Regions from separate parts of the Homo sapiens genome. Here region 1 is linked to region 2. Evidence: fine-mapped expression QTL. Tissue or cell type: caudate. Region 2 holds a variant in brackets; the other region holds the start of a gene. All regions are shown on one strand. Distances are from middle to middle.

Region 1 (5,369 bases), 36 kb after region 2:
TTTTAGAGATGGGTTCTTGCTATGTTGCCCAGGCTGATCTTGAACTCCTGTGCTTGAGCTGTCCTCCCACATCAGCCTCCCAAAACAGTGCTGGGATTACAGGTGTGAGCCCCCATGCCTGGTTCTAAAATTATCACTGAGCGTTTTGTAACTCTTTGACTTTTCTCTCAAGGCCAAACCACCAGTGATTTTTCAATAATTTTTAGTAACAATATTCTTTTTCCAAGTGAAATAATCTTCAGAATGCCCATAAATAAAACACCGACATAGAAGGATGAATTCCTTATGATGTTCCAATCTTCTCTGCTTGGCAGAATATTCTGCTCTTTGTGGAACTCTGAAATGATTTGGCAGAGCCCTCTGTTCACTGGGAACAGGTTGAGGACCATGGTGTAAATGGATTTAGGTGCCGATACAGAATATGACTCTCTCTAGCACACGATGTAAGAGGACATGTTGCCACAGTAAGAAATGGAATGCTACCTGCTGCCCACTGACAGGGAAATGCTTAAATAGACACAGGGCACCCACCGCTGCCTGTGTTAGCAACAGCAGCAGCTGGCGTCTAGCAAGGGCTTCCTGGAGCCATGTGCTGTCCCCAGCCTTTGCAGGCCCCACCTCGGACCCTTCTCCCAACGACACTGTGCCGTAAGCACCATTATCAACCCCCTGTTACAGACGACAAAACCAAGGCTGGGGGAAGTTAAGAAAGTCACAGAGGGGACAGCTGGGCGTGGTGGCTCACGCCTGCAATCCCAGCACTTTGGGAGGCTGAGGCGGGCAGATCACCTGAGGCTGGGAGTTCAAGACCACCCTGAGCAACATGGAGAATCCCTGTATCTACTAAAAATACAAAATTAGCCGGATGTGGTGGCGCATGCCTGTAATTCCAGCTACTCGGGAGGCTGAGGCAGGAGAATTGCTTGAACCTGGGAGGTGGGGGTTGCGGTGAGCTGGAGATCGCACCACTGCGCTCCAGCCTGGGCAACAAGACAGAAATTAGTCTCAAAAAATAAAGGAAAGTCACAGAGGGGCAACAGCCATAGAGCAGTGGGGCCAAGATTCCAATCTAGGCAGGCTAGCGCTCTTGACGGTCGTACTAAGAATAAAAAAGGGGGGTGGGTGCAGTGGCTCACGCCTGTAATCCCAGCACTTTAGGAGGCCGAGGCAGGTAGACCACCTGAGGTCGGGAGTTTGAGACCAGCCTGGCCAACATGGCGAAATCCTATCTCTACTAAAAATACAGAAATTAGTTGGGCGTGGTGGCACACGCCTGTAGTCCCAGCTACTTGGGAGGCTGAGTCAAGAGGATCGCTTGAACCCAGGAGGCAGAGGCTGCAGTGAGCCGAGATCGCACCACTGCACTCCAGTCCACAGGTGTGGACCCCAACAGGAGGAATGAGTGTAGCTCACTCAGAGTCTGGGGTGGGCCAGGCTTTCTACACGCATCGTGTCATCCTTCCATGGCCCTGGAGAGAAAGTCTGGCCACCCCCATCTCGAGATAAGGACACAGAGGCTTGGGGGTGAAGACCTGCCGAGGCTCCACCTCAGCAAGCGTCAGTCGGACTGCATGCCTGGGGTCTGGCTCCTAAGCCCATGCTCTTTCAATGGCCCAAACATGGAATGCATGGAAGATTTCAGTTAGAAGAGAACTTGGCAGCTGCCAAAGCAGGCTCTCATTCTACGGAGGAAGCACCTGAGACCCAGAAAGAGGAAGGGCCTCGTTCAAGGTCACAAGGCACTGACCATGAAGCCAGGAGGGGCTGGCACGGGGCAGTTTCTTGGCAGAGCTGGCTGAGTGGTTTATTTGTTACAGGTTTGCTTGAAAGCGTTCTCTGCCGAAGAGTTTAGGAGCGATCGTGACTGGTTAGTGCAGCCCATTCCGCCGGGTCTGGATGGTGAGTCGTGCCAGTGTGTCCCGTGCGAACACGGACTACCCGCCTGCTCCCAGCATCTTGCCCTCCCCAGGACCCCTGAAACGGAGGCTAAATGATTCACCCAAGGTCACCAAATACAAGAGAAACGGAGTGTGGCCAGGCGCGGTGGCTCACGCCTGTAATCCTAGCACTTTGGGAGGCCAAGGTGGGTGGATCACCTGAGGTCAGGAGTTCGAGACCAGCCTGGCCAACATGGTGAAACCCCATCTCTACCAAAATACAAAAAATTAGCTGGGTGCAGTGGCGGGTGCCTGTAGTCCCAGTTACTTTGGAGGCTGAGGCAGGAGAATCACTTGAACCTGGAGGGCAGAGGTTGCAGTGAGCCGAGATCATGCCATTGCACTCTAGCCTGGGCAAAAGAGCAAAACTTCATCAAAAAAAGAAAAAAGAGGGCCGGGCGCCGTGGCTGATGCCTGCAATCCCAGCACTTTGGGAGGCTGAGACAGGCGGATCGCGAGGTTAGGAGTTCGAGACCAACCTGGCTAACACAGTGAAACCCTGTCTCTACTAAAAATACGAAAAATTAGCCAGGAGTGGTGGCATGCACCTATAGTCCCAGCTACTCAGGAAGCTGAGGCAGGAGAATCGCTTGAACCCGGGAAGTGGAGGTTGTGGTGAGCTGAGATCACGCCACTGTACTCCAGCCTGGGCCACAGAGCGAGACGCCATCTTAAAAAAAAAAAAAAAAAAACGGAGTGGAAATCTGAACCCATCTGGCTCGGGACGGTCTCTCCTCTCTCCTCTCGAAAGACCCCATCAGCTAAGACAAGGATCCAGTCGCATCTTAGGAAATTTGAGGCTCTACTTACAAGTGTTATTGCTGGTTTGCCATGCACAGGAACGCTGAGAACACCATCGCCCTGGCCTCATCGAACGACTCCAGAGAGGGGCCCACATCTGCTCAACCAAGAAGGAGAAAGCTGAGGTCTTCCAAGTGTTCCTCCCCAACATCTTGGGTCTGTTCCCACTGACTCCAGTCTGAAGAGGGTGATGTTCCCTGCTGTCTGTTCTCACTTTGATCAGGACCACTGTGGACTGGCGTGTACCCACCTCTTTTTGTAGAAACTCATCCCAACCCCTGAGCCTAATGGTTAAAGTTCAACCCATGCCTTTCCCAACAGGGTGGGTCCACAGGGATTAGTGGCCTCTGCTGGGGACAGGCCACTCAGGTCACTGGGCTTTGATCTGGCAAACAGGAGCACAAGTCTGCCAGGGAGCTAGAAAAACTGTACGGTGGGGCTGCGTGAGCACCAGGGGATTACGCGGGAGGCGGGGGCGAGTGGATGAGAGCAGAGTCCCTGTTTCTTTCATGGGGTTGACCGTGTGGTTTGGGGCTCCGGGACACTCAATACCAGGCACAAAGCCATGGTGTGCATGTGAGGAGGGACTGGCAGGCAGGCTCAGAAGTACAGGAATGGGACTGGCCAAAGCGCTGCTGGGTAGACAGGCCAGGGGAGCAGGGAGCTTCTGTCCACCCACCAGGGCTCCTGAAGTCATGGAGTCCTTGCTTGCCTTAAAATAGGTGCGATTTGATTCATTCATCCTCCCCGGAAGCAAGATGCCCTGTGGCTTCGGACACTTCCAGGTCATGCCTGCTGTCTTGGCATAAACATTAACAGGGCCACCTTTCTTTCTTTCCTTTTCTTTTTTTTTTTAGACAGAGTTTCACTTCTGTTGCCCAGGCTAGAGTGCAATGGCGTGATCTCGGCTCACTGCTACCTCTGCCTCCCAGGTTCAAGCAATTCTCCTGCCTCAGCCTCCTGAGTAGCTGGGATTACAGGCGCCCACCACCATGCCCAGCTAATTTTTTGTATTTTTAGTAGAGATGGGGTTTCACCACGTTGGCCAGGCTGGTGTTGAACTCCTGACCTCAGGTGATCTGCCTGCCTCGGCCTCCCAAAGTGCTGGGATTACAAGTGTGAGCCACTACGCCCAGCCTCTTTTCTTCGTTTCTTTTCTTTTCTTTCTTTCTTTTTTTGAGATGGAGTCTCGCTCTGTTGCCCAGGCTGGAGTGCAATGGCGTGATCCTGCCTCACTGCAACCTTTGCCTCCCAGGTTTAAGCAATTCTCCTGTCTCAGCCTCCTGAGTAGCTGGGATTATAGGCACACACCACCACAACGGCCAATTTTTTGTATTTTTAGTAGAGACGGGGTTTCACTGTGTTCCCCAAGCTGGTCTCGAACTCCTGAGCTCAGGCAATCCACCCACCTCGGCCTCCTAAAGTGCTAGGATTACAGGCATGAGCCACTGCGTCCAGCCTCTTTTCTTTTCTTTCTTTCTTTCTTTCTTTCTTTCTTTCTTTTTTTTTTTTTTTTTGAGGTGAGGTCTTGCTCTGTCACCCAAGGTGGAGTGCGGTGGTGCCATCATGGCTCACTGCAGTCTCAATCACCCAGGCTCAAGTGATCCTCCCTCCTCAGCCTCCCAAGTAGCTGGGACTATAGGTGCATGCCATTATGTCCAGCTAATTTTAAAAATTATTTGTAGAGGCAGGTTCTCGCCATGTTGCCCAGGCTGGTCTTGAACTCCTGGGCTCAAGCAATCCTCCCAGAGTGGCCTCCCAAAGTGCTCGGATTACAGGCATGAGCCACTGCCCCTGGCCTGGTACCTCCCTTCATGCCCAGGGTCCACATGGGTATGTTAGCTGGTCACTCTAGCCAGGCAGCTGGTGATATTTGCAGACGCCAACCCACAAAGAACCTTCCTTTGGGTCCTTTGAGCGGCACAGCAGTTTATTCACCCAGACACCTTTTACCTGTGAAATGGAACCCATGGGATTGGGATGCACCAGTTTGTGACTTCTTGTTGTTGTTTAAACTTACAATCTTTTAGGGGGCAGGGCTATCATAACTTTTCATAGAATCCTGGAATCTTAGATCTAGAAAACCCTACAGAACACAGGTGTTGAAATGCGAGTCCACTTGTAGGCTCCTGAAAGCCCAAGAATCCCACTGAAATCCCCCACACAATGGATAGGGTCTGCGGCTTTCGGCCACTGCTCTGGTGGGCCCAAGAGTTTGCTTGCATTTGTTTTGAGCAACAAAAACCAAGTCTGGATGATATGTTCTCTCCTTCCCACACAGTCATGGTGGAAATGCACCCACTCTTGGGAAGTCTGATTCATTGTCATTCATTCATTGACCCACTCACTCATTCATTGACTCACTCACTCACTCATTGACTCACTCACTCATTCACTCACTCACTCATTCATTCACTCACTCATTCATTCTCTCACTCAGTCAATCATTCATTCACTCATTCATTCATTCATTCACTCACTCATTCACTCACTTATTCATTCACTCACTCATTCACTCATTCACTCATTCATTCACTCATTCACTCATTCATTCATTCACTCATTAATTCATTGGCTTTTGCCTCCATTTCCTCATCTGTAAAGTAGGGAAGATTCTAGGATTCCATCATA
Region 2 (5,369 bases):
CGGTAGCTCTGACTGTTGCGAAGGCAGGGAGGAGGGGGGACCCCAGCAGCCTGAGGAGCTTGCGGCTTGTCCAGGCATGGAGGGTGGGGACCCTCTGTGGGCAGTTTTTGCCAAAACTTCTGGCTATGGTGAGAGGGTCAAAGGCGAAGCCTTGAGGTCTCCATTCTGGAATTGTCTGCCCGGGGTCACCAGGACCACACTGGGGCTGTGCCTGCGTGCTGGGAGCTGAGTGCATAGTGACAGGTCGGCACTGGTAGGGGCCTGTGCAGATGGGATGGTGCTGGGGGTGGGGGTGGGGGTCCAGGCTTCCAGGCAGCGCCTGATGTGGTTTTGGTTACAGACACTGCCTGTGTTTCCCTCTAAGCTGCTGAAAAGCTCAGAAATGTGCAGCAGGGGCTGGAGCTCAGCCTGGGTTCTGACTGCATGCGGGAGGTGGGCGCCAGGATGACTGGGACTTCAGGCTGCGTGGACCCACTTCCTGGGTTTAAAAACGGGCTCTTCACCTGCCAGCTGTGTGCTCGGGCAAGGCCTTCTCTGCCTCTCTGAGCTTTGGTTTTCCTGTGTGTGCAAGACAGATGAATCACAGGCCCTGCCCCGTGGAGTGATTGGAAGATTCAGTGTGATAATTTATGTGGAGGGCTGTCGCTTCTTTGAACCCCTTCCGCCGAGGTGTAGGGTGATGTCCCCTTGCCCTGAGCCTGGGCAGGTGCTCCTGACGGGAGTGGTAAACAGGATGCCGCAGGAGCAGTGCTTTGTGACTCTGGAAGCCAGGGCAGAAAAGGACATCGTGTCCATCTGGCTCTTTCTGGAAATGCACCCTTGGAGCCCTGAGCACTGCATAGAAGCCAGCTGGGTCCCCAGGGAGTGACCGTGGCAGGCATTCCTGGAGGGTCTCTGCCGAGTCAGTCCCACAGCAGGGCCCGGACCAGCCTGGAACCAGGAGAGATGATGGGGACTACGTGACTCTGGTCTTTCCTGCCCTAATTCAGGACAACTTGTTCCTTAACTGGAGGAAACCAGGAAAGCAGCCCAGAAGCTGCAGGTGAGCCCGTCCCTGGGTGAGAACTGCTGAGTCCGCGGGGGAGTGGCAGAGCTGGGATTTGAAGCCAAGGCCATCTGCCCTTGAGCCTGAGGCCACCATGGCCCTGTCCTGCCCTGCACTGCCCACCAATCAGGAATTAGATTCAACCACACTTCTAGCATTTTCCATCACAAGGCCATCATTCTAAAATTTCATGGGCTCCCAGAAGGTAATAGCTCTCTCTGGGAATCACCTGACAGAAAGCACCCGCAGCAACAAAAAGCGATTTTAACCTTAGTGATTGGGCTGGTGGATTTTCGTTTCGTGACGGGCAGCAGCAGCCTGTGCCTTCCACAGCAGACTTGAGTGTGTGAGTGTTGGCCACAGCTGGGCCTTAAACTCAACTGCACATTTCACCAAGAACCAGACATGCTCCTTATTCCATTACATGGTGAGAATGCTGCTCTAGTGTGGATTTTTTTTTTTTTTTTTTTTTTGGAGACGGATTCTCGAGCTGTCACCCAGACTGGAGTGCAGTGGCACGATCTCGGCTCACTGCAACCTCCGTCTCCTGGGTTCAAGCGATTCTCCTGCCTCAGCCTCCTGAGTAGCTGGGATTACAGGAGTGTGCCACGATACCCAGCTAATTTTTGTATTTTTAGTAGAGACGGGGTTTTGCCATGTTGGCCAGGCTGGTCTTGAACTCCTGACCTCAGGTGATCTATTCACCTCAGTCTCCCTAAGTGCTGGGGTTACATGTGTGAGCCACCATACCTGGGCTACTGTGGATGTTTAATATCTCCATTTCACAGGCGAGGAAGCTGAGGCTCAGAGGTGCGCAGCTCAGGAGTGGTGGATCTGGGCTCTGAACCCAGGAGTCCAACTGTGGGGCTCTCTGATACACTGTGCTATGGGAGAAGCTCCCAGAAGTCCTAGGCTAGGAGCCTCTAGGCGAGAGAGTTGTTCAAGTCTCTTCCCATTCCCTGGCCCATGAAGCACAGACTCTTGCTCCCAAGGCTGGGCCTTTTACCTCCTAAGGTCTTTTTTTTTTTTTTTTTTTTTTTTTTGAGATGAGTCTCGCTGTGTCACTCGGCCTGGAGTGTAGTGGCACAATCTGAGCTCACTGCAACCTCCACCGCCCAGATTCAAGCAATTCTCCTGCCTCAGCCTCCTGAGTAGCTGGGATTACAGGCACCCGCCACCACGCCTGGCTAATTTTTGTATTTTTAGTAGAGATGAGGTTTTATCATGTTGGCCAGGCTGGTTTTGAACACCTGACCTCAAGTGATAAGCCCGCCTTGGCCTCCCAAAGTGCTAGGATTACAGGCGTGAGCCACCGCACCCAGCCTCTTAAGGTCTTTTAATTTCTCAAAGGTCTAACTCGGCCAGGTGCGGTGGTTCACGCCGGTAATCCCAGCAATTTGGGAGGCCAAGGTGGGCAGATCACTTGAGGTCAGGAGTTTGACACCAGCCTGGCCAACATGGTGAAATCCCGTCTCTACTAAAAATACAAAAATTAGCCAGGCATGGTGGTGGGCGCCGGTACTTCCAGCTACTCATGAGGTTGAGGCAGGAGAATCACTTGAACCTGGAAGGCGGAGGTTGCAGTGAGCCGAGGTCGCACCATTGCACTCCAGCCTGGGCAACAGAGCGAGATTTTATCTCAAAAAAAAAAAAAAAAAAAAAAAAAAAAAAAAAGAGTCTAACTCTTTATTTTCAGCTGAGGGGATGAGCCCAGAGATCAGCATCAGGACCAGAGCTCAGTCCGCGGTGGCACTTCCTCCCCTGTCCCGGGCATCATTCCTCCCCTGTGGTTTGCCTAGAAAATTCTGACTTACCCCATGGAGAAGAAATGCTCCAGAACCTTCCCCGGGAGGAAAACAGCCCTTGGGTAAAGGGTCCTTCACAA[T/C]CAGCTCTTTTCTTTCCCACCAAGAGGTGGGACCACCTGGTGTGGGAGGTGGAGGCTGGCTGGGAAAACAACCCCTGCCCAGGTTTCCTCTGGCTGTGGAGCCGCGTGGAGGAAGAGGATGGGGCGTCAGAGCTCTCAGAACCGTGGCCTTGTGAAGTTCCTGAGCAGGCAGATGGGGCGGCAGGGGGTGATCTGGTCCCAGTCCCAGGAGGCCACCCCGAAGCCAGCATCAAGGCGAAGGCCACGTACAGATCAAACGTCTCCTTGAACCGCGAGGAAGGGCTGGTCCCAGCTCCATCTGGACCAGCCTCCACCATTGTTAACACAGGTTGAAGCCTCATCCGTCCGCACATGTGAGGCTTGCGTTGACTCCTTCTGCCCTGGAATTCTTTTGTATGCTGCTGAATAAATAAACTACATTTCTTTGGAATTTCTCCTTCTCCCTCAAAGCCTTTTCTCAGCTGATCTTGGAGAAAGGCGACACTGTTGTCCCCACCATCTTTTCGAGCTGCGCTGGATACAGGGAAGCCTATGGATCGCTGGGCGGAGAGCTGCGGTTTGGGCAGGTTTCTCTCCGCCCTTGGGCTTGGGGTCGGACAGGGACGTTCAAGGAGAGTGCTGGGTGGTACATGAGTCAACATTCTTAAATGTTATTAGTTAGGGATTTGAGGTTTTTGTTTCAATCTGTTTTAAAACAAACTTTATCATTAGTGAATACCATCACCCAGGACAAGGCTAAAAATTTTTCGAGCTAATCAATTTAAAGAAAAATATTAACTAGGCTGGGCGCGGTGATTCACGCCTGTAATCCCAGCACCTTGGGACGCCAAGGCGGGCGGATCACCTGAAGTCAGCAGTTTGAGACCAGCCAGCCTGGCCAACATGGTGAAACCCCGTCTCTACTAAAAATACAAAAATTAGCTGGGTATGGTGGCGCACACCTATTGTCCCAGCCGCATGGGAGGCTGAGGCAAGAGAATTGCTTGAACCCGGGAGGCGGAGGTTGCAGTGAGCCAAGATCGCGCCACTGCATTCCAGCCTGAGTGACAGAGGGAGACTCCTCGAAAAAATAAAAAAGAAAAGAAAAGAAAAATATTCAGTAGAAAGTTGTCCCATTGGCAGGCAGATATGTCAAACGTCTTCAGGATCTCGCCTGCATGGCTGAATTTTGGGAACTTCTGTTGAGCTCAACACCCTTATTTTATGGAGGAGGAAACAGGGTCCCAGAGCAGTGGTGATGCATTCGAAGTCAGAGAGACCTAGCTGTGGACACACCAGCATCAACCCTGCGGAATCCCATTTCCAGAACTGGAACCACAGCCCCTTGGCGGGGCTCTTTCCACTACGCCATTTCTTTTTCCTTGCAAATGAATCGCTGCACTAAACAATTTTGCTTGTCAGATTATACTGATTTCTTTCTTTTCTTTTCTTTTTTTTTTTTTGAGATGGGATTTCACTCTTGTCACCCAGGCTGGAGTGCAATGACACGATCTCAGCTCACTGCAACCTCCACCTCTGGGTTCAAACGATTCTCCTGCCTCAGCCTCCCGAGTAGCTGGGATTGCAGGCATGTGCCACCGCACCCAGCTAGTTTTGTATTTTTAGTGGAGACGGGGTTTCTCCATGTTGGTCAGGCTGGTCTCGAACTCCCAACCTCACGTGATCCACCTGCCTCAGCCTCCCAAAGTGCTGGGATTACAGGCGTGAGCCTCCGCGCCCGGCCTGCTGATTTCAAATATGCAGCTTACCTTATGTTTTATTTCCGGCAAGATGTCCACCAGCCTCTGCAGCGTCTGATGATGGGCCCCGAGCTGCATGGCAGACAAAGGAGGGGTTAGCTGCAAAGGCAGTGGATGGGGGGGGAAGCTCACTCCACTGTAAATACACCACGTTTTAAAAGCAATCCTAGGCCAGGTGCGGTGGCTCATGCCTGTGATCCTAGCACTGTGGGAGGCCGAGGTGGGCGGATCATCTAAGGTCAGGAGTTCGAAACCAGCCTGGCCAATATGGTGAAACCCTGTCTCTACTAAAAATACAAAAATTAGCTGGGTGTGGTGGCACACTCCTATAGTCCCAGCTACTGGGGAGGCTGAGGCAGGAGAATCACTTGAACCCAGGAGGTGCAGGTTGCAATGAGCCGAGACTGTGCCACTGCACTCCAGCCTGTGTGACACAGCGAGTCCTGTCTCAAAAAAAAAAAAGCAATCCTAATGATGGATCACCACTTTCTTCATTAGATCTACACCCGAGCAAGTGATTACCTTTAAAAACACGCCTATCACAGCCAAACCATTCTCTCCCACGACAGCTTCCTTGTAATTTTGGTATTTCACAGAATTCCAGTGAACTAAATGCAGCTGAAACACAATGGAAAGAGAACTTAAATTGATCAGCAAGAAATAAGACAGTCACTTCCCCTTCTGAATGGCTGACCTATGT

Evidence for each region. PIP is the estimated chance that this variant, and not a neighbour inherited with it, causes the effect. A credible set is the group of variants that fine-mapping cannot tell apart.
Region 1: CA5A starts here. The variant in region 2 is the best candidate, but not a certain one, in a credible set for the expression of CA5A in caudate (GTEx, PIP 0.78).

The regions. Positions count from the first base shown.
Region 1 is chr16:87,933,562-87,938,930 of GRCh38, forward strand. It overlaps CA5A (carbonic anhydrase 5A), which reads right to left and starts at 2,968. Exons shown (of 7, transcript NM_001739.2): 1 at 2,748-2,968. The coding sequence starts at 2,889.
Region 2 is chr16:87,897,234-87,902,602 of GRCh38, forward strand. It overlaps CA5A (carbonic anhydrase 5A), which reads right to left. Exons shown (of 7, transcript NM_001739.2): 4 at 5,192-5,287; 5 at 4,679-4,741. Among named protein-coding and RNA genes, the nearest start is that of SLC7A5, 30 kb to the left of the region's middle. RefSeq lists an enhancer at 602-1,301. The variant T/C (reference allele first, on the strand shown) is at 2,931.